Linked DNA regions of Homo sapiens: all the other regions are linked to region 4. Evidence: fine-mapped expression QTL. A gene starts in region 4. Each other region holds a variant in brackets. All regions are shown on one strand. Distances are from middle to middle. Region 1 overlaps GLB1 (galactosidase beta 1). Region 2 has its middle 170 kb from the start of LINC01811. Region 3 overlaps CRTAP (cartilage associated protein). Region 4 holds the start of GLB1 (galactosidase beta 1). Region 5 overlaps GLB1 (galactosidase beta 1).

What was found. PIP is the estimated chance that this variant, and not a neighbour inherited with it, causes the effect. A credible set is the group of variants that fine-mapping cannot tell apart.
Region 1: its variant is the best candidate, but not a certain one, in a credible set for the expression of GLB1 in fibroblasts (GTEx, PIP 0.54).
Region 2: its variant is the best candidate, but not a certain one, in a credible set for the expression of GLB1 in monocytes (Quach 2016, PIP 0.56).
Region 3: its variant is the best candidate, but not a certain one, in a credible set for the expression of GLB1 in neutrophils (BLUEPRINT, PIP 0.69).
Region 5: its variant is the best candidate, but not a certain one, in a credible set for the expression of GLB1 in whole blood (INTERVAL, PIP 0.57).

What each region holds. Positions count from the first base shown.
Region 1 is chr3:33,003,688-33,008,790 of GRCh38, reverse strand. All of the region lies in intron 15 of GLB1 (galactosidase beta 1), which reads left to right. Among named protein-coding and RNA genes, the nearest start is that of CCR4, 55 kb to the right of the region's middle. The variant C/T (reference allele first, on the strand shown) is at 3,000.
Region 2 is chr3:33,987,008-33,992,110 of GRCh38, reverse strand. No RefSeq gene overlaps it. Among named protein-coding and RNA genes, the nearest start is that of LINC01811, 170 kb to the left of the region's middle. RefSeq lists an enhancer at 2,817-3,419. The variant T/A (reference allele first, on the strand shown) is at 2,550.
Region 3 is chr3:33,140,833-33,145,935 of GRCh38, reverse strand. It overlaps CRTAP (cartilage associated protein), which reads right to left. Exons shown (of 7, transcript NM_006371.5): 7 at 1-3,541. The coding sequence ends at 3,488. Among named protein-coding and RNA genes, the nearest start is that of CRTAP, 29 kb to the right of the region's middle. The variant C/T (reference allele first, on the strand shown) is at 2,021.
Region 4 is chr3:33,095,185-33,100,287 of GRCh38, reverse strand. GLB1 (galactosidase beta 1) reads left to right here and starts at 3,142. Exons shown (of 16, transcript NM_000404.4): 1 at 3,142-3,277. The coding sequence starts at 3,203. TMPPE (transmembrane protein with metallophosphoesterase domain) reads left to right here and starts at 3,142. Exons shown (of 2, transcript NM_001039770.3): 1 at 3,142-3,569. RefSeq lists a silencer at 2,945-3,554.
Region 5 is chr3:33,043,516-33,048,618 of GRCh38, reverse strand. It overlaps GLB1 (galactosidase beta 1), which reads left to right. Exons shown (of 16, transcript NM_000404.4): 10 at 2,387-2,499. Among named protein-coding and RNA genes, the nearest start is that of GLB1, 51 kb to the left of the region's middle. The variant G/A (reference allele first, on the strand shown) is at 2,763.

The DNA of each region.
Region 1 (5,103 bases), 91 kb after region 4:
CTTTGGCCTTCTACTCTGCCTCCTTCATTCCTCCTCCATGTAGAATGGATCCACTACTGGTGTCTCTGCTGGTTCACCAGTCACTGAGCACAGCTAAGGGACTTCTCAGCGCATTCATCGTGGCTACCATCCCCTCATTGTTGCCAGCCTCCAGAAGCCCTCAGATTTGCCCAGCAGTCCTTGGTCTCTCTCTGCTCCTTTCCCCCACTGGCCTTTTCAACCTTCAGCACCCTCCTTAAGCCACCTGACTCTCCACCCTCTCCACTGAAGACCTCATCCTCCTTGACTGCTATCAGGTGTAACTCCTTTGTTCCCTCAGCTTCCTGTCAGACTTATCTCTCTGCCTCCAACCTCATTTCCTGCCCAGTGGTATCTAGGAGGAAGTCTGAATTCTGAATCTCCTCCCCACCTTCTTCCTTCAGGGCAAGATCCTGTTCTCATATTTCCTCTACCTGCATTTTGTCAGCCTCTCCATCTTTCTGCCGAGTCCCATTTTTCAGCCAAAAAGTGGTAACTAGGAGCTCTAGGACCTAAACACAAAGAAAGCCCTCCCTGGATCTTCCCCCTTTAGCTAGCAAGTTCTTGTTCCCTCGATCCCTCTTTTTCTCCCCTCCTAATGCAGTAGAGACCAATGGAAAAGTGTGGGATGTGTTGGAGGTCAGAGGGAGGTTCATCTTGGCCAAGTCTTAAAGGTGTCACACGCAAGAGTTACTGACCCAGGCGTTCTGCTCAACGCTTTATAGACACTATCTCCGTAGCCATCAAAAGAGGCACCTGTGGTAGATGGATCATTATCTCCAGTTTGCAGATGAGTAGCTGGAGGCTTAGATAGCTAAGTAACTTGTACGAGGTACAGAAGTGCTCAGTGGCACATCTACCTGAGCCCCAGCCGTGTCTTGAAGGCCCATGTGAAAAAGCAGGCAGCATTGAGAACCGGTGAGGAACTCATACTCATTATCTAGGCTGGGGCTCTTTACTTATTTGGTCAGTCTGATGAATGCTCTGCATCTCCAGGCTTGAAAGTACATCTCCACACAGTATTTGTGAATGTGTCAAAGGGTTCAGACCCCCAAAAGCCCATCTAATCCATATGTCCACTCAAACACTTGTACACAACTGTTCATTGCACCGTTATCCATAATTGCCAAAAGGTGGAAACAGCCCAAATGTCCATCAGCTGAGGAATGAATAAACGAAATGTAGTACATCCATACAATGGAATATGATTCAGCAATAAAAAGAAATGAAGTATTGATACATGTTACAACATGGAAGAATTTTGAAAACATTAGGCTAATGAAAGACGCCAGTCACAAAGGACTGTATGTTGCATGATTCCATTTACATGAAATGTCCGGAACAGGCAAATTCATATAGACAGGAAGATCTGTGATTGCCTAGAGCAGGGAAAAGAGAGTGTTGGTTGGATGGGAAGAGAATGTTAAAGGGTACAGGGCTTCTTAACGGAGTGACGAAATGTTCTATAATTGACTTTGGTAATGGTTGTGCAGCTCTGTAGTATACTAAAGACTGCTGAATTGTATGGTATATGAATTCTATGTCAATAAAGTGCCACACACAAGGCCCATCCAAGAAGTTTGTGGACTTTGGACTGAATGCGTGTGAAGGTCCAAGGGTACACACACATCCTACCTAACACAGAACCAATGTGGTTTCTGTTTTCTGGTGCACAGTGGTCCCTGCTGCTGGGGACAGTCCCAGGCCAGCTCTGGGGCTTCTAAATGATCAGCCACCTCAGAACAGGCAGATCCCACTCCCACACTGAGTGCTAAGCTCTGACATTTGAAAGAATGAGCACGTTAGCACATGGTTTGAATGCAGGGAGCTGGCAGTTGCGGTGTGGGGTTGGACAAAATGATCCCTGAAGCCCCAGCTGTTTCTAAGGCTGTGCACTAACCCCCACATCCTTCATCAGGAGAGGCCCTTGTCAAAGGCCCTGGCACAGGACTCTATGCTCTTCCTATTCATTTTACTGTAAAGAAACTACCTTGATTTAGAGAGCAAAGTCACTGATAAGGGCGATTCATAAGATTAAAAAATCACTTTTGTTTACACTGGCTTTACTTGAGTCGGATGTGGCTTTCTGGTTAATGCCAGATGTGAATGAATATCAACTGGGACTTCAGTAGAAAGGGGTCAGGCATGTTCTGCTCTGTCCAGCAGACACAGGGCAATGCTTTGACCTCACTGAGTTCTTATCTGACTGGAAAGTCCATTAGATAGGAAGCGTTCTTCTCCAGTGCTTTCCACAATATGTCCTGTATGCCAGTGGTCCCCAACCTTGTTGGTATCAGGGACTAGTTTCGTGGAAGACACTGTTTCCATGGACTGTGTGGTCAGGGGTGGGGGGGTGGAAATGGTTTTGGGATGAAACTGTTCCACCTCAAATCATCAGGCATTAGTTAGATTCTCATAAGGAGTGCACAGCCTATATCCCTCGCGTGCGCAGTTCACAATAGGGTTCCTGCTCCTATGAGAATCTGATGCTGCTGCCGATCTGACAGGAGGTGGCGCTCAGGCAGTAATGCTCGCTCACCTCTCACTGTGCGGCCCGGTTCCTAACAGGCCGCAGACCAGTCTGTGGCCTGGGGTTTGGGGACCCCTGCTATATGCCAAACCTGAAATGTCATGTTCTGCCACTGCAGCAGTGCTTGTGCTATTTATCTCTCTTTCAGCTGGGTGTGGATAAGTCTCCTGTCAATATCCTATGCAGCCTTCAACATTTTGTGGTAGGTTTAGGTGCATGACAGAGCATGGTGTGAGTGGGATAGTGTCCATTTTTCCTTAACCAAAATTATGCTTTGAAGAGTCAAGAATCAAAATAGAATACTGATGAAAAGTAATTCTGTATTTTAAAGATAAATTGTCCCACCTTCAAGATGTAAAATAACTATGAAATAAAACAATGTATGATAAACGGTTGAAAGAAATTCCTTCTTTTAACTGTTTGTTGCATCTTGCTTTTGAAATTTCCTGGC[C/T]GACGCGATGGCTCACACCTGTAATCCTAGCCCTTTGGGAGACCGAGGTGGTAGGATCACTTGAGCTCAGGGGTTTGAGACCAGCCTAGGCAACTTAATAAGACCTCATCTCTACAAAAAAAATTTTTGAATTAGCTGGGCTTGGTGGCATGCACCTGTAGTCCCAGCTACTTGGTGGGAGATGGGAGGATTGCTTGAGCCCAGCAAATCAAGGCTGCACTGAGACATGATTATGCCAGAAAAGAGTATGTAAAACTTTTAAAACCTTATCAGTGTTAGTCACTTGGTCTCAATCCATTTGGAGAGACAGAGGTATAGAAAGAGCCCAAGAGGATTATAAGAGTCTGTAAGAGATATGTAAACCATGCAGTTGGGCCTTGGAGAGGAAGAAATTATAAGTGCTTAAGATTGCTGGGAAAGGTCTGGTCTTCCTAGTGGGAAGGATATTTTGTGCAGAGGGATTGATATTTTTCAAGGGAATAGTATAGTAAGAAATATATTTGGTCTTTGTCCCTGGTTCCAGGGCCCTAAAACCCTTGGAATTTTCTGAGTGGTAGGAGTGTCTTTTGTTATTCATAACTAGCCTCTTTCAATCCCACCTGGGTTTGTGCTAATGAGGCGACTTAGGATGGAGCCCCTAGATAACCATAGGATAGTTACAAGGGCATGATGGCACCTGCAGTCCCAGCTACTTGGTGAGAGGTGGGGGGATTGCTTCTCCTGACTTGCGTGCCCAAACTTCTCCTGGTTTTCTTCCCTCTCTTTGCTCCTTCTCAGGCTTCTCTGTCAGCTTCTATGTTGCAGTCCTCAGGACTTGGTCCTGGGCTCTCTTCTTACACTTTTGGGGATTGTCCTCACAGATGTGCTGGACATGCTTACATTTCCTTTTCCAGCTCAGCTCTTACAAGGCTCTGGAGCCCACCTTTGGGGGTCTCATAGGCACCTCCAGCCTGATAGGTATAAAACAGAACTCTCTCCCTGTTACCCCTGAAAGCTACTCTTCTGCTGGAGAAGTGGTCCAGAGAGAAGGAACAGAGCTGGACTTGAGTGTGGCAGTAGGGAGGGAGGGCGGTCCAGCTTCAGGAAATAGTAATAGTACCAGCCACATCTGAGAGCTTACCATGTGCTGGCTACAGTACTGAGTGCTCACAGGTGTCTTCTCACCCAGCTGTTCTCAGCAATCCTGAGAAAGGCACAGACATGGCTGAGGAAGCCCCAGTGGGATTTGGTGATTGATCAGTGAAAGTGGGACTGACTAAGTAGTGGATGGCTCTACTATTTTTAAATTGAGTTTTTAAACGTCACTCACTTTCCTGAAAAGTAGCATGCTTAGGCACCTTCTGACCATGGAGATGTGTATCAGTTAGCTTCTGCTGCATAACGAGCCACCCAAAACTTAGTGGATTAAAACGACAACAGTTTATTTAGTTCACGATTTTGAGTATTGGCAGACCAAGTAGTGGTTTTGCTGGTCTCAGCTGGGCATGACCACCTGGGTGTTAGCCATCTGTCAGCTGAGGCAACAGAGAAGATGAGACCATCTCTCTTTCATCATCCAGCAAGCTAGCCTAGGCTTGTTCACATGACTAGCAGGGTTCACACGACTGAGCAGGGTTCAAAGAAAGAATGCAAATGCGCAAGGCTCCTTAAGGCCAAAGTCAGGATTCACATGTCACTTCTTCCACGTTGTTTGGCCAAAATATGTCACTAGACCAGCCAGATCCAAGGAATGGAGAAACATGTTCTACCCCTTTTTTTTTTTGAAATGGAGTCTCACTCTGTTGCCCAAGCTGGAGTGCAGCGACACGATCTCAGCTCATTGCAACCTCCGCCTCCCAGGTTCAAGCGATTCTCCTGCCTCAGCCTCCTGAGTAGCTGGGATTACAGGTGCACACCACCATACCTGGCTGATTTTTGTATTTTTAGTAGAGATGGGGTTTCACCATGTAGGCCAGGCTGGTCTGGAACTCCTGACCTCAGGTGATCCACCCACCTTGGCCTCCCAAAGTGCTGGGATTACAGGAGTGAGCCACCATGCCCAGACAGATTCTACTTCTTGATAGAGGGACCCACTAATAATTGGGGCCATCTGTTCAATATCCCA
Region 2 (5,103 bases), 890 kb before region 4:
AAAGTCACCTATGGCCTCCATATAGCCAAATCCCAGGAAAACTTTTAGTCTTCATCAACAACAAAGAAGACTTCAGTCCCAGCTTCCTGAAACACACTCCCTTCTTGGCTTCCATTATGTTTTCAGCTGAAATTAACAACCACCTCAACCAAACAAAATGTATTATCTTGTATAACAGGAAGCATCTCCAGAGGTAGATCAGCCTTCAGAGCTGGCTGATTCATCAGCTTAATGTCTTCAGGGACACAAGCTCTGTCTGCCTCTCGGCTTTGCTATCTATGCTATCAGGAACCTCTGAGAGAAAGGGATAAAGGAGAGAAAAGAAGCAAAGGGTTTCTTGTTCAAAAAGAAGTTAGAGCCCTTGGATCCCTCCCCAATTTCATCTAACCTGGAGACTATATCCACCCTCACCCAACTCTGGATGTTTATACTTTAGAGCAACAGTTCTCAAATTTTTAGTCTCAGGCCTATTTTACAGTCTTCAGAATCACTGAGGACCCCAAAGAGCTTTAGTTTATGATGATTACAAATACTGATATTTGTCATAGGATAAATTAAAACTGAAGTATTTAAAATATTCATTTATTAATTCACTTCAAAAATAAAAATAATAAACCCATTCCACATTAACATAAATATTTTCTGAAAAACAACTTTATTTTCCAAATCAGAAAAACTTTAGCTAGAAGAGTGGCATTATTTTATATTTTTCAAATCTCATTAATAACTGGCTTAATAGAAGATAGCCAATCTACTGTCTGCTTCTGCATTCAATCTCTTATGATATCACACATCATGTAGCCTCTGAAAAACTTCACTGTACACACCTGAATGAGAATGGAAGGGGCAAATACAGTCTTGGTGTTATTATAAAAACAGCTATCATCTTGCTGACCCCCTGAAAAAGTCTCAGGGACCCCCTAGGGGTCCACAAACCATACATTAAGAATCAATCCTCCAAAGAGGATAAAAGTGGAAATCTCTGGATTGGAGAAACCAGAAACAATTGAGGGACAAACTTACTGTACCAAAAACATGAGCATTAACTAAAAAGCCTTCATTAAATGTGGAAATTCAATCTCTTCTCCCTTTCCCAGACTCCAGCCCACCTTACATTCCAGGGTACTGTCAGTCAAGCTGAATCCTTCAACCAGCGGACCTAAACCCCTTCTCAAGATTCTAGCCAGTCTAATAGAGAAGGTCTAAAGATACTGCCATCAGGATTTCCCCAGTGAAATGGTACAATCTTCAAACTATGGTGAAACCCATGAATGGCAACATAGAACTTCAAATGAGCTTTTTTTCTCTTTCTTTTTGTTACAACTTAATTGTGGTATAATTGATATACAATAAACTGCACATATTTAAAGTGTACAATGTAATGAGTTCTCACAGATGTATATACTCATTAAGCTTTTACCAAAATCAAGACAATGAACATTTCTATCACTCCTAATAGTTTCCTCAGGCCCTTTTGGAATCCATTTCTTCCTCCTCCCCTGACATTGGACAACTGCTAATCTGTTTTCTAACACTATGGATTAGTTTGCTTTTTCTAGAATTTTATATAAATAGAATCCTACAGTATGTACTCTTTTGGTGGTCAGGGAGCATCTGGCTGCTTTCATTCACCAATTTCTCAAAAGAGAAACAATTTTTAAAATCTTGGAACTGCTGAAAAACAATCTGGGGCATATAATCTGTGATTCAGAAATGGGGAAAGGAGGGAATCTGTGGAAAGCAGGTACCACTTGGGAGAGATTCCCAAGCAGGCAGAGTAAGCAAGTCTATTATAAGGGATTCCATATTCCCCAAAATATTCCCCTCATATGATCTGAATTTTTTTAATGAGCTTTTTGATGCTCTTCTTAATTATCAGCAGATGATCAAGTTAACAAGATACCTTGTGAGGAAAGCTTGTAACATGAATAATAAAAAAGACAACAAACATGCAGGGGAAAAATTAGAGAAAGTAGAGACTATGCAAGAAGATAAACTCTTTTAAAAACTATCATTAATATCTTCAGAGAAAATACTATATGTATTAAAAAGAAAAGAATGTATTTTAAAATATTCAAAGAAGAAAAACAGAGCCCTTTGGAAATTAATAATACAACAGAAATGAAAACCCCAATAGAAGTCTTGGAAAGTGAAGTTGAGAAAACCTCCCAGAAATTACAGCAATGGACAAACAGAGGGAAAAGAGTGGGGACGGGGCCAAGATGGCCAACTAGAAGCAGCAGCGATCATAGGCTCCATTTGAAAAGAACTATAATACCATGTGAATCCTGCACCAACAACCAAAGTATCCAGGTTCTCATCAGAACTGACTAGGTGGCTGGCATGATCCACGGAGAAGAAGGAAGAGCAGTGTGGTGCAGCAGCCCACCTGAGAGCCACTTGGGGCAAAGGAGCCCCCACCCCCCCAGCCAAGGGAGGCAGTGAGTGAGCATGCTACCCAGCTGGGGAAACAGTGCTTTTTCCACAAAACTGTGCAACCCACGAATCAGAAGATCCCACTCGCAAACCCACGCCACCGGGGCCTTGGG[T/A]CCCAACCCCAAAGCCATGCAGATTCTCAACAGCCACTCAGCTAGAATCTGCTTAAGCCTGCTGAGTTCCCAGGGGAAGGGGCGACCAGCACCACAGCTGCAGCTACCTGTTCTCTAAGCCCTTTGAGCTCCTTTGTGGGAGGGGCAGCAGCCAGCACTGAGACTCAGAACTGCCTAACACACTAAGCTCCCTGGGTGGGGGAAGGGCGGCATCCATCTCTATAGTTCCAGGCCACACTTTTCCCCTGCTGGAGCCAGGGAAGCTGGACTGCTTAGTCCCAAGAGATGTCCCCCACAGCCCAACACACCACTGTGCAGACTGTAGCCAGAGCACCTCTTCAGGCCTGACCCGGACCCATCCTTCCTCACTGGGCAGGGCCTCCCTGCAAGAACTCCAACTCTAGCCAGAGGCTCAGGGACAGAACCCTCATCTCCCTGGGCCTGAGCCCCTAGAGGGAGGGGTGGCTGCAGTCTCTGCGGACCAGTAGACTTAGCCTTTCCTCCTGGTAGTTCTGAGGAATCCGGGCAGCCCAGATGAGTGGGCTCCCCCGCCCAACAAAGCACACCCTCTCCAAGGACAGTCAAAGTGCTTCATTAAACAAGTCCTCTTCCCCATGCCACCCAACTGGCTGAGACCCTCCAACAGGAGTTGTCAGACACCCTACACAGGAGTGATCCTACTGGCATTAGGTTGGTGCCTCTCGAGGTCAGAGATCCCAGAAGAAGAAGCAGGCACCCATCTTTGCTGCTTTCCAGCCTCCTTGAGTGACATTTCCAGGCACAGGAGCCAACCAGATGAATAGGGCCCGAAATGAACCCCCAGCAAACCACAGCAGCCCTATAGAAGAAGGACCTGACCATTGAAAGAAAAACAAACAGAAAGCAACAACAGCATCAACAACAAAAAAAGTCCCCACAAAAACTCCAACCAAGGGTCAGAAGCCTCAAAGATCAAAACTAGACAAACTCATGAAGATGAGAAAGAATCAATTAAAAAATGCTGAAGACCCAAAGTGCCTCTTCTCCTCCAAATGATCGCAATGCCTCTCCAGCAAGGGCACAGAACTGGATGGAGGATGAGATGGACAGATTGACAGAAGCAGGCTTCAGAAGATGGGTAATAAAAAAACTCTGCTGAGCTAAAGGAGCATGTTCTAACCCAATGCAAAGAATCTGAGAACGTTAATAAAAGGTTACAGGAGCTGCTACTTAGAGTAACCAGTTTAGAGAGGAACACAAATGACCTGATGGAGGTGAAAAACACAGCACGAGAACTTTGTGAAGCATACATAAGTATCAACAGTCGAATTGACCAAGTGAAAGAAAGGATATCAGAGTTTGAAGACAACCTTGCTGAAATAAGGCATGCAGATAAGATTAGAGAAAAAAGAATGAAAAGGAATGACAAAGCCTCCAAGAAATATGAGACTATGTAAAAAGATCAAACCTATGATTGATAGGAGTACCTGAAGAAGATGGGGAGAATGGAAAAAAGCTGGAAAACACACTTCAAGATGTTATCCAAGAAAACTTCTCCCACCTAGCAAGAGAGGCCAACATGCAAATTCAGGAAATACAGAGAACACCACTAAGAGACTCCATGAGAAGATTAACCCCAGGACACATAATCCCCAGATTCACCAAGGTCAAAATGATGAGAAAAAATGTTAAGGGAAGCCAGAGAGAAAGGCCAGGTCACCTGCAAAGGGAAGCCCACCAGACTAATAGCAAATATCTTAGCAGAAACCCTACAAGCCCAAGCCAGAAGAGATTGGGGGCCAATATTCAACATTCTTTTTTTTTTTTCTTTGAGATGGAGTCTCGCTCTGTCGCCCAGGCTGGAGTGCAGTGGCGCAATCTCGGCTCACTGCAAGCTCCGCCTCCTGGGTTCATGCCATTCTCCTGCCTCAGCCTCTCCAAGTAGCTGGGACTACAGGCACCCGCCACCATGCCCGGCTAATTTTTTGTATTTTTAGGAGAGACAGGGTTTCACCATGGTCTCAATCTCCTGACCTCGTGATCCGCCCACCTCGGCCTCCCAAAGTGCTGGGATTACAAGCGTGAGCCACTGCGCCCGGCTTCAACATTCTTAATGAAAAGAATTTTCTACCCAGAATTTCACATCCAGCCAAACTAAGCTTCATAGGCAAAGGAGAAATAAAATCGTTTCCAGACAAGCAAATGCTGAGGGATTTCATCATCACCAGGCCTGCTTTGAAAGAGCTCCTGAAGGAAGCACTAAATATGGAAAGGAAAACCCAATGCCAGCCACCGCAAAAACACACCAAAATATAAAGATCAATGACACTATGAAGAAGCTTCATCAACTAGTGTGTAGATAGCATCATGATGACAGGATCAAATTCACACATAACAATACTAACCTTAAATGTACATGGGCTAAATGCCCCAATTAAAAGACACAGGCAAATTGGATAAAGAGTCAAGACCCACCAGTGTGCTGTATTCAGGAGACCCATCTCATGTGCAAAGACACACATAGGCTCAAAATAAAGGGATGGAGGAAAATTTACCAAGCAAATGGAAAGCAAAA
Region 3 (5,103 bases), 46 kb before region 4:
CCCGGGTCCTCAGGGGACATCACTAGGGTAGGGGTGGAGGTGCTTTTCAATCCCCAGTGAAAGGAGGCCAACTTCAGAGAGTGAACGAGGACCCCCCAGCATGCCAAGTCAACCCATACGTGGAACAACAACATGTACAGAGAGCTCACCCCAGGCTCACAAGACAAGGACCCAACAGTACCTCTGCAGGGCACAGAGGTGGAGTGAGTCACAACACCCAACCCTGCCTGGGTCCCTGTGGACGTCGGCTTTCATTTTCTCACACAGCTGGGAAGGACACTGCAGCCTGAGGCTATAAGGGGAGTTCACAGCTGCTGGGCACACTATTTACAGACTCAGGAATCCCGGAGCAGGGCGTCCACTCGCTGGGTCCCCCACTACTTTCTAGTCCTGTCTCATCACCCTCTTCCCCACTGAGTTCAAAAGGAAGTTTCTCTGGTGGAGTAAAGGTTGGGGTGAGGAAAGAAAGGAGAACCCGGCATCCCGTGGGTGAAGGCCATCTCCCCCAGCAGGAAGCCACGTAAGATCTGACGCATCGCTGGGATTGGGGGCTGCTGTGGACACGGTGCATCCACCAGTAATAACACTGACTCCTCGGGCCAAACACCCCCGCTGGGAGTACAGATTTTGTGGACGTGGGCAACTTCAGCCCAAGACAGAAGTGGTAGGGGACTGTCCTGGGTGGGTACCCTCAAAGGAGAACCTGATGCAGGGATTCTTGTGCAGGTGAGTGAGGACGTGGTGTCAGAAGGGATGAGGAAAGCAGGATAGAGCTGAAGGAGAAACAGAAGGATGTGCCCGAGTTCCCCGAGGTTGGTAGAGTGTTCTGGGGGATAAGGGAAGCCCAGAAAAAGCACAACGTGTGAGTGTTCCACCCCAATTAACCACCATTACACAAAAACCCAAACACTCTATCCTTTTATTCCTTCCCAGGCTATTGCAGGAAAAGTCTTGTTTCCCAAACGCTGTGCCTTTCTCCTCTTGCCTTCAACCCTGGAGGGGCCCAACTACACAAGTGGCTTATTTGGAGAAGGGAATGAGGTTGAATAAAGAAAGCTCAGCTTCCAGAACACCACACTCTCTTGGTTTTCTCTGACCTTAAGGTAACTCCTTCTCAGTCCTTTGGCTGATTTCCCATTTCCCAGAGAGCCCAAGGGCTCCATCCATGGCTCTTTTCTGTTGCTTCTCAGTAATACTCAGAGACAATCTCAGTGGCCCCTCCAGCTGCATGGCTTTAAATGCCACTGACATGCTGATGGTTCAGTAGGGGGCGCTGTGGTGCCCTGCCAGATCCCTTCACACAGCCAGTGCCCAGGACCCCCACCCCCAACACACTACCATGCATGGTAGCTGCCAGATGCCTACAGCCTCTTTTCCAGAGACTTGCCCTCAACTGAAGTCACTTGCCTTCAAATGTACCCACACTCCCAGAGAACTTCTCACAGCCAATAAATGACTGATAAAGGCTTTCACAGGTTCCTTCTGAGAGCACCCCCAACAATAAACCAAGTGCATTCAGATCCCTGTCTCGAGCTCTGCTGCAGACCTGACCTGAGAGAACTCTCCACTTTGATTTGCAGCCAGAACCTCCCATTCCAACCACAGACAGCCTGCTTTGCACCAAATTCCATACTTACCCAGCCCATCCTTCCCTATTTCAGTAACTGGTAACTCCATCTTTCCTGCTATTCAGGCCAAAAACCTTAATGTCATCATTAACTCTTCCTTCTCTTACACTCCACATTCAAACTCTCAGCAAATCCTATTGGCTCTTTTCAAAATAAATCTAGATATTTGACCACTGCTGTTGCTGTGGCCCAGGCCCAAGCCTGGAACCTTGCAGTAGCTTCCTAACAGGTCTTCCCTCTTCCTTCTGCCCTTGTCCACTAAAGTTTTTCACAATATGGCAGCTAGAATGACCCTTGCAAAATATAAATCAATCAAGGCACTCCTCTGTTCAAACCCTCCAGTGGTTCCCATCTCACTTAGCAGAAGCCAAGGCCCTCCACCACCTGTCCTC[C/T]CCAGCCGCCTCTCCTTCCATTCTACCCCTGCCCACGACTCTGCTTGGTCTCCCTGCTCTTTCCTGACCACGTAGAGCAAGTTCTCACTTTGGGGCAGTGCACATCCTGTTCCTCTGCCTGGAATGCCTTGTCCAGGATCCACTTCCCTAACGTCTCTGCTCAACGTCACATTCCCAGTGAGGCCCCATTTAAAACTGCAGCCTCATCTCCAGGATTTCTTACTCCCTCCCCTGCTTTATTTTTCTCCACAGCAATTATCACTACATGATACCTTGTATATATTTATTCCTATGTATTGGCTATCTCTTTCTCCCTGTAGAATGTAAGCTCCATGAGCACAGGGAACTTTCCCTGTTATTCTGTGAAGTATCTCTAGTTCCCAGGTCAATGCCTAGCACACAGTAGGTACTCAATAAATATTTACTGAAAGAATGAATGAAACTAGACAGCTCTGGCTTTCTTCCTTTTCCAACTCGGAGACTTATAACTAAGCATTGTCCTCAAATGGGATCGGCCAACCGTTGTAATTTTGGAGATGCAAAGTGGGGCAAAAGCCACATTTCTGCACTCTACACTCTCTACTCAACTTGTTTTTCAGTGGGTGCTAGAATTGGTACAAGTCAGACCAAGTGAAGACCATTGTGAGGCTGGAGAAATTTAGCCTATGTCTTCCACCATCTTTCCCGGATGGGGAGAAAGGAGACTAAAATCTGGAAAAGCAAATAAGCCAAAGGAGGTTTTCACAATTATCATCTTCTAGGAATGTTTTTCTTATTTAAAAAATAATACTGATTTTCTGGGAAAAACAAAAAAACAAGCCAGAGAAGACTGCCCTTCAAACCAAAATGGTAAGAAAGGCAGCTATGAACATGGGGAAGACAAGTGTGAACATGAGGAAGACAGGGATGAAGGTGTGAAAACAGATGTGAGGATAAGAAGACAGGTGTAAAGGTGAGAAAGAGGCCGGGCATGGTGGCTCACGCCTGTAATCCCAGCACTGTGGGAGGCCAAGGCAGATGGATCATCTGAAGTCAAGAGTTCGAGACCAGCCTGGCCAACATGGCAAAACCCCGTCTCTACTAAAAATACAAAATTAGCCGGGCGTGGTGGCACATGCCTGTAATCCCAGGTACTCGGGAGGCTGATGCAGCAGAATTGCTTGAACCCAAGAGGCGGAGGTTGCAGTGAGCTGAGAACGTGCCATTGCACTCCAGCCTGGGCAAGAGAGCGAGACTCCATCTCAAAAAAAAGGTGAGAAAGATAGGTGTGAACATGAGGTGGCAGGTGTGAAGATAGGAAAGGCAGGCTCACCCCTGATGACATGCAGTTAGAGAGACGGGGGCTTCCCTTTCACTTTGGAGAGTAAAGAGAAGGCTCTGAGGTATCAACAGCCTGGGCTGTTGGGAAAAGGACAAAGAATCTGTGTTTCCTGAACGCCAAGAGGAAGTCTCTTTGGTTGCTGTGGGCTAGCTGGTCTCCTCCAGTTCCAAGAGGTCATCCACATATTCCACAACTTCTCCCTGTAAGAGACAACAGGACAACTTTATTAAATGGGCTATTGGACTTTTAAAAGTACTGATGAGCAGAAACAGTATCCCGAGAGGCCATCACCACTGTCTGCTTTGGCTGAAACAGGTTTTTTCTGCTGGTCTGGGGCCCAGAGGACCTGATTTCTCCCTGTGGAGGGGACCTCGGCTTCCACTCCATTTGAACTTGGTATCAAGTGCTCTGCGAGATCCGCCAACATGCTGTGTGAGGCGGACAGCCCAGCCTGTGAACAGCTCTACTAAGTGGCCCTCCTGTGTGCATCTCTGCCTACTCCCCTTCCTCCCCTCTCATGTGTGCAGGTCTCCCACAGGAACATTTTCTATCTGTTCCCTTTCTGCCTTGACCACCAGAACCCAAACTTCTCAAGGACCAGGGGACTGGGTTGATTTTTCTTCCCCAGAGTCCAGCACACAGAAGGTGCTCAATACATGTGTTGAAGGATGAATGATTGAGTGCTTGCATACATACTGCTGGTGTGACTGAAGCAATCACTCCTCTTACAGGAGAGACACACAGGGATAGTGGGATCCACTTGCCCAGTGTCGGTACCAGGAGCTCACCTGCTCCCTCCTTCTGCAATCAGCCTTATACTTCAACTTGAAGCAGCCCAGCACCCTTCCCAATTTCTTTCTCCACATTGACTTCTCTTCTATAACCCTCCTGGACCACCAGCTGATGACACCCATTCTCTTTTCTGCAGAGAATGAGTGAATGACCAAGGCTGAGGCCCCTTCCATAAGAGTCAACACAGACTGGCCCCACCAACCCTGCTAAAACTCGACCTCCTTCACTGAGCTCACCATCCCAGGCCAAGAGCCTGTTGGCTCCTTTTGATGTTTTAACACAGAGAAATTTATAAAAATCTTGCAGCATTTGGGAATAACTGGAAAACCTATCAAGTACATGAGACACAAATGGGGGGTCTTAGTATTATCATCAAATACTTCTACTATGTCATGCCTGAGATTAGAAACTCAAACTGTAGACACTACAGCTTGGAAAAATTGTTTTTCAGTTGCTTTCTAGACCCCAAAAGGAAAACACAGCATAGTAGAGGGATTATGTGTATAGCTATGACTTCTGCTTAGGGAGTTACTATATCCTGCTGTGTGTCTGTTGTGACTTGCGGGATGATGGTATTGTTTGCTTTTAGCTCACTAGTAATAAGTGCCCGAGGCAGCACAGACGAAAGAAATGCATCCCCTGCATGGCTGTTGTAGTGAATACTGTTGGGGCCTCACTCAGATCTCCTTCCCAGTGCACTCATCCCCAACTCCTGTGAGGGCTGCTTGCTAATGGCTAGCAGCTGCCCCTTCTCTGGGCAATTGCCTTTGGCCAAAAACAAAAACAAAAACAAAAAAAAACAGCAGTCTTGACAGGGAGGTTACACACCAGCCCTTCCTGGCAACGAAGAACGAATGACAGACTGATAAGGGGGACTACAAAAGGCAAGAACAACTCTGTGGTGCAATTCATGCTCCAGAGTCCCCCATGGGAGCAGGCGAAGCTTGACTCCAGCTGAGACCACGTATTT
Region 4 (5,103 bases):
CCTTTGGCAAGCTTATACTGTAAAGGGCTAGAACATAAATATATTCAGTTTTGTAGGTCCTAAGATCTGTGTTGCAACTACTCCATTCTACCGTTGTAGCGTGAAAGCAACCATATGCAATATGCAGAGGATTATAGGTGGCTGTGTTCTAAGAAAACTATTTATGTGTAATCTTGGCACTTTGGCAGCCAAAGTGGGCAGATTACTTGAGGCCAGGAGTTCAAGACCAACCCTGGCAACAAGGCAAGATCTTGTCTTTAGAAAAAAAAAAATTATTCAGGCATGGTGGCACTCGCCTGTAGTCCCAGCTACTTAGCTACTCAGGAGGCCGACATGGGACGACTGCTTCAGCTCAGGAGTTCAAGGCTGCTGTGAGCTATGATTGCACCACTGCACTCCAGCCTGGGTGACAGAGCAAGACTGTGTCTAAAAAAACAAAACAAAACAAAAAAAACAAAAACCAACCCCACAAAACTTTATTTATGGACACTGACACAGGAAACTTACAACATTTTCAAATGTCATAAAATATTATTCTTTTGATTTTTTTTCATTCATTTAAAAATGTAAAAACCATTTTTAGGTGGCAGGCCATAGAAAAACTGGCAGCAAATTGTGCCGATTCTTAGTAAAAAGAATTTTAAAAAGAAAAAGAAAAACAGGCAGCAGGCCAGATTTGATCCTCTGCCCTTAGTTTGCCAACTCCTGCTCTAAACCCTTTCTACCTCAGTTCAGTTAAAAATACCTATTGCATATGATAACCCTGAGTGTACAGAGTAGGAAAGAAGGTAGAAGAAGTTGAATCTGCCATGTGTTAAGGATTTTTGTTTTGTTTTGTTTTTAAACTTCGTTCTGCAATAATTTCAGGCTTAGAAACAAAAAGTTGAAAAAAAGAGTAAAAATAATTCCTTCATTGATTTTCCAAATGTTAACATTTTACCACATTTGCTTTTCTTTCTCACGTTCTTTTCATGCCTGGAATACCATTTCTCTCCCTCTCTCTCTCTCTCTTTCTCTCTCTCTCCATTTTTTTTTGTGAACTGTTTGAGAATCAGTTGCAAAGATGATGCCCTTTTGTTTCCTAAAAAACAAGGATGTTCTTTTATATAACCATTACCAAAATTACCATTACCGTTACCCAAATCAATACACTAATACAAAACTATTATTTAATATTTAGACCGTGTACCATTATCAAAATCAGAAAGTTAACATTGATGCGGCCGGGCACAGTGGCTCATGCCTGTAATCCCAGCACTTTGGGAGGCCGAGGTGGGCAAATCACTTGAGGTCAAGAGCTCCAGACCAGCCTGGCTAACATGGTGATACCCCATCTCTACTAAAAATACAAAAATTAGCCAAGCCTAGTGGTGGGTGCCTGTAATCCCAGCTACTTTGGAGGCTGAGGTGGGAGAATCACTTGAACCTGGGAGGCGGAGGTTGCAGTGAGCCGAGATTGTGCCACTGCACTCCAGCCTGGGTGACAGAGTGAGACTCTGTCCCCCCACCCCCCCAAAAAGGAAATTAACATTGATGCATGGTACTAATCTAACCTACAAGTCTAATTCTGATTTCATCAACTGTCCCACTAACATCCTGTATATACCAAGCTTCTTATCGTCATCATCTCTGGTAATTTCCCCAATTATCCAGTGAATTTGATATTATTAGCCCTGCTTTACCAACAAAGAAACTAAGCTCAGAGAGGTTAAGTAATTTGCCCACAGTTACACAGACAGTAAGTGGCAGAGCTGGAATTCCAACTCAAGTGTACTTCCTCCAGAGCCCTTGTTCTTTAATACTGAACTAGAATTGCAGAGCTTGGAAAGGACTTCACAGTGCAAGGACACGGAATTGGTACTACAGGCATGAAAAGAAGCCAGGCACGGTGGCTCATGTCTGTAATTCCAGCATTTTGGGAGTTCCAGGCAGGTAGATTGCTTGATCCCAGAACTTCAAGACCTGCCTGGGAAACGTGGTGAGACCCTGTCTCTACAAAAAATACAAAAATTAGCCGGGTGTGGTGGCGCACGCCTGTAGTCCCAGCCACTTGGTAGGCTGAGACGGGAGAATTGCTTGAGCCCAGGAGGCCAAAGCTGCAGTAAGCCGTGATTGCGCCCCACTCCAGCCTGGGTGACAGAGTGAGACCCTGTCTCAAAAAACACAAAAACAAAACAAAAAAACAACCCCCCAAACCAAAAAACAAAAACCTAAGAAAAGCCAGTAACTGATACTTTCTCAATCTCTCAATGAAATGTCCTTTCTGATACTTTCTCAATCTCTCAAGGACATGTCCGGTAGGAAAGGAGAAAGGAGTGAACAAATAGAATTTTGGCTACTTTGTTATACAATGTAAAAAGGCTTTTTGGAACACCAAGGCATAAACTAAGGTTATTTTAAAAAAGAAAATTTTTTTTTGATACGGAATTTCGCTCTTATTGCCCAGGCTGGAGCGCAATGGCTCGATCTCGGTTTACTGCAACCTCCACCTCCCGGGTTCAAGCGATTCTCCTGTCTCAGCCTCCTCAGTAGCTGGGATTACAGGCGCCTGCCACCACGCCCGGCTAATTTTTGTATTTTTAGTAGAGACGGGGTTTCATCATACTGGTCAGGCTGGTCTGGAACTCCTGACCTCAGGCGATCCGCCCGCCTCGGCCTCCCAAAGTGCTGGGATTACAGGCGTGAGCAGGATTTTCATTCTAACAAGTTCCAGGTGAGTTGATACAGTGGCTCCAGGGACCGACCACATTTTGCTAACCCCCGGCTTAGAGTTATTCAAAGAGCCCGTATATGAGACGCGGATTCCATCTAGGGCGTTTAGGTTTAATGATTAACAATTTCCCTCTTCTGCTCTCTCAAGGCAGCCAGGGAACAGGGAGACCATGATTCATGTCCAATCCCCGAGGCGCGTTATCAAGCTGCTGAAAGCAGGCCCTCCGGACTGCAGTTCCAAAGGGTCCCTTCCCAGGGAAGACGCCTGCAAAACCCAGATAGTACTATCCTGGAGTCACGCGGCGGCGCGCAGCCTCCTAGCCGCCCCCACCCGCCCGGCTCGGCCACAGCGGGGCGGGGCGCGGGGCTGAGCAGGCGCGAGGGCTGGCTGCTGGGCCGACGAGGGGCGGTGCCAGGCCGTGGGTCCTTAGTCAAGTGACGCGAAGCGGCCGGCCTGGGCGCCGACTGCAGAGCCGGGAGGCTGGTGGTCATGCCGGGGTTCCTGGTTCGCATCCTCCCTCTGTTGCTGGTTCTGCTGCTTCTGGGCCCTACGCGCGGCTTGCGCGTAAGTCTGCGGGACCCGGGTACGGGGAGGCATTGCTAGGGGACAGGCTGGCGGGGAACCGGGCTGGGGTCGCAGCCACCCGCGGTCCCGCAGGGCGGGGAGCCTGAGCCCCGAAGTGCCCCCCAGCAGGCTCGCGGCCGGCGGAACGCAGGCAGTGGACCGGCCTTCCCGTCGGGGGCGGGCCGGGCGGGGCGCGCGTCCTTCCAGGCAGCTCGGTCGCTTGTGCGTTCCGCTCCGGCCGCCCTTTGCGCTTGGATCCACTTCCCCATCTGTAACGAGGTGTTGAGACGAGGTGCGTGTAAACATTTCCTAAGTTGGCTTTCCGGGAGGGGATTCCAAGTTGCGCGGGTTAGAGGGTGCCTCCGGCTCTGGTTTGGGGCGCCCTCGCTTTCCCAGTTGGTGCTCTGCGGAGCGCTCCGGAAGGAGAAAAATGGGGTCAGGAGAGGCCCTTGCAGTGGGAACATTGGGTTATTTCCCCTCTGGGTGCTCTCCCTCTTCGTGCATCTTGTTCCTTTCTCACCACTCCCCGTCGCCTGCCCTTTGGCTTGGGTTTTTCTTTGTATTTGTGGGACCGTTTTCCTTCGGCGTTTGGGGGTCCAGGTTGAGGGGGGGAATAGGCAGGCTGCCGGGGGATGCCATCGTTGATCGGGGCAGGGCTGGCGAGGCGAATAGGTGAGGTGCGGGGCGTGCACAGTTGGTGGGAGAGGAAGGACAGCTTCACTCGCTGCGTCCGAGCTGAGGCGACTGGCTGAGGGGCTCCAAAGCGCTGCCTGGGGAGGTTTGCATCACACCTGCGGAAAGGAGAGTGGGTAGTTGCAAGCTGCTCCTCTGCACGTTCCGCGGACCAACTTTGGTTCCTCCAGGGTGTAGGTGGGCTGAGCCTGCAGTATGCTTTAAGTAAGAGCTGGTAGCATTTGACACCGTTGACTTGTAAGTTACACCCTTTAATAACGCTTTCAATAACGTGCCTAGGGCAGAGAAAAGTGGTACATTTATCTACAACCAAGATTGAACATCTTAAGTATTTGGAAAACAGCTGCTGAAAATGTTTTCATTTTGGGAAAAAGTCAGCACAGATTATTTGCTGCTCCCTCTTCACCCCGTCTGTGGTTCCCCTACCCCAGTATGTAGACAGAGTTTTCTTGTCCAGAAGGCCCGTAGGACCTTAGGAGTCAGAGCTAGCCAGCTGTGAGAACCACTGGGGAAGGTGGAACTGGGGCACAGTTCAGGAGAACAGTGGCAGGGTAAGGGGCTAGGGGAAAGGCAGATCTTAACCAGTATCTGGGAGTGGGGGTAGGGAGAGAGAGAAGGATTTATGAACCAGGAACAGGTGGACAGGGTCAATCTGTCTGATGTGAGCTCATCAGTCTTGTGCAGCGTCATTGGGTCAGGGTGGATGCCCTGTGGCTGCCATACCTGAGGCCCACACAGGGAGGCTGGCATCACCCCAGGAATTCTCATTTCAGGTGCCTAGGTGTCCCTCTTGGGCTTCTGTGCCCACAGCTAAAGAAAGATACCAGCAGTCTAGCTTTCCATTATCTCCTTGTTTACATTTCTTTAGGGTTCACGCCATTCTCCTGCCTCAGCCTCCCGAGTAGCTGGGACTACAGGCGCCCGCCATCACACCCGACTAATTTTTTTCTTTTTTTGTATTTTTAGTAGAGACGGGGTTTCACCATGTTAGCCAGGATGGTCTCGATCTCCTGACCTCGTGACCCAGCGGTTCTCAAATTTTAACTAAATTTTAGCTGTCCTAGAAATTAAGAGAATATTCCTTTTTTTTTTTTTTTTTTTTTTTTTGAGACAGAGTCTCGCTCTTTTGCCCA
Region 5 (5,103 bases), 52 kb after region 4:
CAGCTTCCTAGAGGAGAGCAGGGAGAGAAAGGCATCAGGAGTGGGGAGTTCACTGCCCATCCCACCCACAGGAACATGCACCTGCCTGTGCAGGTGTGTGTCTCCTTCCTCCACACCTGTGTGTGTCCACAGCTGTGTGATGGCTGCCTACAGGGTCCAGGCGCTCCTGTACTTCTCACACAATGTGGAATGTTGATGAATGCAAAGTCTCACCATTTCTTTCACCTTCCCACCTCACACCCTCTTAAGTGGCCAGAGGAGGCTTGAATCTGCACCATTTCTCTGCGATGCTGCCCTTTGGTGGTCTAAAAACACCCAAAGTAAGATTCTGCCAGTAGAACTAGAACAAATACTTAGTCTTCCAATCCATCCTTAAACCCACTGGACAGCTTCCCAGCCTGGGCTCCCTCGGCCTGTAAAGTGTGCTTCTAGAGGTCACACTTTCCCAACTCAACCTGGCAACCCCCTCCATGCTGGGCTCTGGCTAAGGACTCAAGGGCAAGTGAGGCACAGTCTCTGCCCCTGAGGTGCAAGCAGTGTAGCATGGAGAGAGACATAACAAATAAGAAACACAGCACAGCATGGGTGACTACCACATTAGAAGCAGACGAGGGCCACAAAGAAGGTGAGTTCCTTGCAGCAACGGATGTGGGTTTTTTTTTTTCTTTGTGTCTCACAGGAAGGGATGTGTTTTAACCTATGAATCCCTTAAGGCAGGCAGACCTGTTGGCTGTGAGTTGTCTCTGATTAATAAGAAATGGGGGAAATGGTATGACTAGATCAGTTCAGTTGGTTGAGTGGTCCAGATCTTTCAAAGTTTAGATTCTGTGCAGAGAACTAATGAAAAAGTCTTTGGAGCTGACCTGCTTGATCTGATCCTCAGCCTTGCTCATCTGTCACCTCCACAACCAGTAGGTCACCCAAGGTGGCTCCATCATTGGTGAGCTGCATCCAAGGAATTTATTACTAATCCTAGGTAAACTATCATGTTTTGTGCCTCATTGATGTACAAATTAGGTTGGACAAAAGACTATTCCTAAAATAACTTCATTCTCACACACTTGCATTGCAATATGCTCTCTGAAGTAGAGGAGGAAGGCACAAAGCCTTGCTGGTCTATGGATGGCAGCATCAGCGTCACCTGGACACCTGTTAGAAATGCAGTTTCAGGCCCCACTCCAGACCTGCTGAATTAGAATCTCTGGGATGGGGCTTAGGAATCTGTTTTAACAAGCTCTCCATGTGACACTTAAGCATGGGTAAGTTTTTGAAGTACCACCCAATGTTGCAGACAACCTCATACCTGTGAACATCATCCCTGACAAGGTCGGGATCCTCTGGTCTAGACCCCGCCCCTTGCACAGTGACTGCAGGGGCATTTGTTTTTCTAGTCCTTTTGTATACTCAGTGTTGGCATTATCCATTGGTCTTTGTTGTAGGTCAAGTTCCCAGGGAAACAGACTCTGAGATTACCTGGTAGAAAGCTTATTGATTGTGCTCTCTGGAGCAATGCCTGTAGGATAGAGAGGGAGAAGTGGGGCTATGATGCAGCTTCACAAGTGGCCTCATCCAATCTTAGAGGGAGCTCTGCAGCTGGGTTGGCTGTTCGAGGCACATTGGTCAGTTGTTGGATGTGGGCTATCCCTGAGGGTTGTAACCTTGGGTGAGGCAGCTCAGCACAGGCCAGCACCCAGAGACGGACACATCTGAGAAATGTCAGCAGACAACAGCCCTAGCTGCTGGGAGAATGAGTGAGTGCCCTGGTTCTAAAGGGGGATCCAAGAGGTGCACCACAGCCCCATCGACAGTCTTTGTAGATGCAACAAAGGCCCTCGGATTATGTTTGAACCTCTGTGGCTGATGTGGGTCTGCTGTCATCTCCCGCTGTGTTTGGTTTAATAAGCCCTGGGTTTTCTGCTGATCCATGGCCTAGTCATCTGTGTCTTCACCACTGAGCTTTTCTCAGCCACAGCTTGAGGACGTGAAAAAGTTCAGAGTTGACAGGATTAACAGTCAGAGATGGGGGTCATATCATAAGCCCTGCCATTACTGCTTGTGAGGTGTTAGCAGATTTTTGTGGGGAGCTTCAGATTCCCTGCTTGTCCAGTGGGGGTGATACCTGCTAGAATCACAGCTGTGAGCTTCTGTAGAGAGTGGATGGAAAGAGTCCTTGGTAAACTCTAAGGTGCCTGGTAACTGCTACCTGTAGAAAGAAATTCCTTCCTCTAAACGTTGCATCCTGAGGGTCACGTCTGTGTCTCCCAACAAGTGGTTTTAATGTGTCTTCTAGTTTTCTCTCTCTACAGTGCTGAGCTCATGGATCCCAAAGAACTTGTCCCAGAGCTGCACCATCAGTAATAACTAGTGGCACATTTTTGTCTTCTAGGGGCCAACTCACCCTATGCAGCACAGCCCACCAGCTACGACTATGATGCCCCACTGAGTGAGGCTGGGGACCTCACTGAGAAGTATTTTGCTCTGCGAAACATCATCCAGAAGGTGGGTGCTTTGTATGAGCTGTGGTGGGCTGATCTTGGACAGAGCCTCTTTTGAACTCACTGTGGCTCTGTGGACAACTTCCTGCCTGGAGCCCTCCTGTTTAAAAGGATGGATGAAGGGAGGCATCAGCTAGACTTGGGTTTGCATCTTGTACCCACGTGGTTAAGAGTGAGTCTATGAGCAGATGCTTATAGGAGAGTAGGAGATATAAGACATGTATTTAAAAACTGCAATATATAATACAGTGTTAAATGCTACTTACA[G/A]ATTCACTTCTTATATGGTGAGAATTCACCCGGGGAAATTTCTGTCTCCATTTTCTTCTCCTTCCAGGCCAGATTATCTTTCCAAAAGTTCAGGTGAGAGGTAGGGTGATGGGAGAGAATGCACAGATCCTCTTGAGACTATAGCCCCTATTAAGGCAGCATGGATATATGGGAGCCCCTATCCTTGAGACACAGCTAATGTACTTCAATATCAAAAGAGGTAAAGCTAAGCTCTGGTTTCTTTATTTAATGCATCATCTGAAAAAAGTAAGTTTCCAGTAACCAAAGTGTATAAGAATTATTTCTCACTAGAAAATAACTCCGTCCTTATTTGCAAGAGAGAAGAAGATAAACTATTTTCCTTTTTATGTGTGGCCCAATATACAGACTATGTGATTTCAGAATGAGGAACACCAGATTTTGAACCTGGACACTATTTCTTCAACCTTAAGCCAATTGTGTAAATTCCCTTTATATAAAAGTAGAGGTAGCCGTACTTACCTCACAGACTTGTACAGTTTAAAAATAAATGGCACTCAATAAATGTTTGTTTTCTTCTTTCATAGTCAAATAAATGAACAATAATTATTTATTTACCTAAAAAAAAAAAAGAGTGAGTCTATGAGCAAATCAGTCTACTGATTGTTAATTTGTAAAACTGGGATTACAGCATCTGGTTGTGCTGTAAAGCTTGAAAAGAACGTATGTAAGCCATCCAGGACAGTTCCTGACACATATATGTCTAATAAGTGGTAGCCGTTAACTATTATTTATCTTAAATGTAAGAAAATGTGTGTCTACTTAAATAGCTGATGTACATAGGAAAAAAAATCTTCAGATACTGTGAAGCATGGTGCAGATGTCAGCTGTCAGTGAAGCTTCATTTTTCTATTTGGAGCAAGTGATTGCTGTTTCTGGACTGCATCTGAACTGCTTAGTCCTGCTAGCGTTGTACCCTTTTGAGGCACCTAATGCACCTAGGTGGGGTTTCCTGTCTCTGCTGTGGGTTAAAAGAAAAAACCCACAGTTTTTATGCTCAGTCACCTGAGTTTTGAAGTTAAAAAAACAAAGGTTTTCTGCCTATAAATGGTATGGTTTTTTTTGTTTTAAGTATGATGTCGTTTTAATTTTAAGCATGTGTTAAAATGAATATTACAAATTTTTTAAATATAAAAAATACAATCTAGACTTACCACACTTATAATTTGTCCATTTCATCTAAATTTTCAAATGTATTGTTAAAATGTTGCTTATGTTATTCCTTTATTATGGGTTTAATCTCCACAGAATTTATAGTAATGTCTCCCAAGCTCTCCCTTGTATGTTTGTTCTGTTTTGAAGCTTTCTGTTCCTATCTTTATTATTTCCTTCCTTTATTTGAAGCTTAGCTTTTTAATGCAGCCTTTCTTCTTTTCTAATATAAATATTTAAGGTTATAAATTTCCTTCAAGTACTGCTGTGGCTTTATCTCGTAAGTTTTGATGTGCAATCTATTTCTTACTGTTTGCTTCTAAACATATCTATTTTGATTTCTCTTCACCATTGATATGTGTTTTTTAAATTACTGGAAATAAGTACTTTCCTGTTTTTTTGATTTCTAGTCTTTTTGCATTCTGGTTAGAGAATATAGTCTGTGATACCAATCCCTTGAAAGCTGCTGAGCCTAGTCTTAGAGCCTGACATACACCAATATTAATGGTCAATGTGCGCATAAAAAGAAAGTATATTTTACAGTTGTTGACTATATTCTACATACATGTTCATCAGATTAAGTTTATTAATGGTGCCATTGATATCTTTGATCTGCTTCCTAATTTTTTGTCAGTTCAGTCTACTATTTAGTGAGAGTTGTCCTCATGTATTTCCCTTTGTAGCTCTGCCAGTTCTGAGGTTATGTTATTAGGTGGGCAAATTGAGAATTACATCCTTCAGTACTTAATAGTAAAGGGATTATATAACCCTCTATTTCTAATAAGGCTTTTTGCCTGGAAGCCTTTTTTTTTTTTTTTTTTCTTTTTTTGGTCTGTTATTCATTAACACCATTTACCTGCATACTTTTGCTTGGTATTTTTCTGAGGTATCTTTCCCAATGCTGTAATTTCATCCTTTTTATATCCTTTGTTCTGTTTACATGTGTCCCTTATAAACAGGATATAATCGAATTTTTAAAATATCTAGTTTGAAATTTCTTGTCTTTTAACTGATATATTTATACATTCTCATTCATTGTACTTCTTGATATACATAGATGAATTTCAATTATCTTATTTTATAATTTCTATTCGTTTACCTTTTTGGCTCTTTCTTTCCCTTTATTGCTTTCTTTTAGATTGAGGTTTTT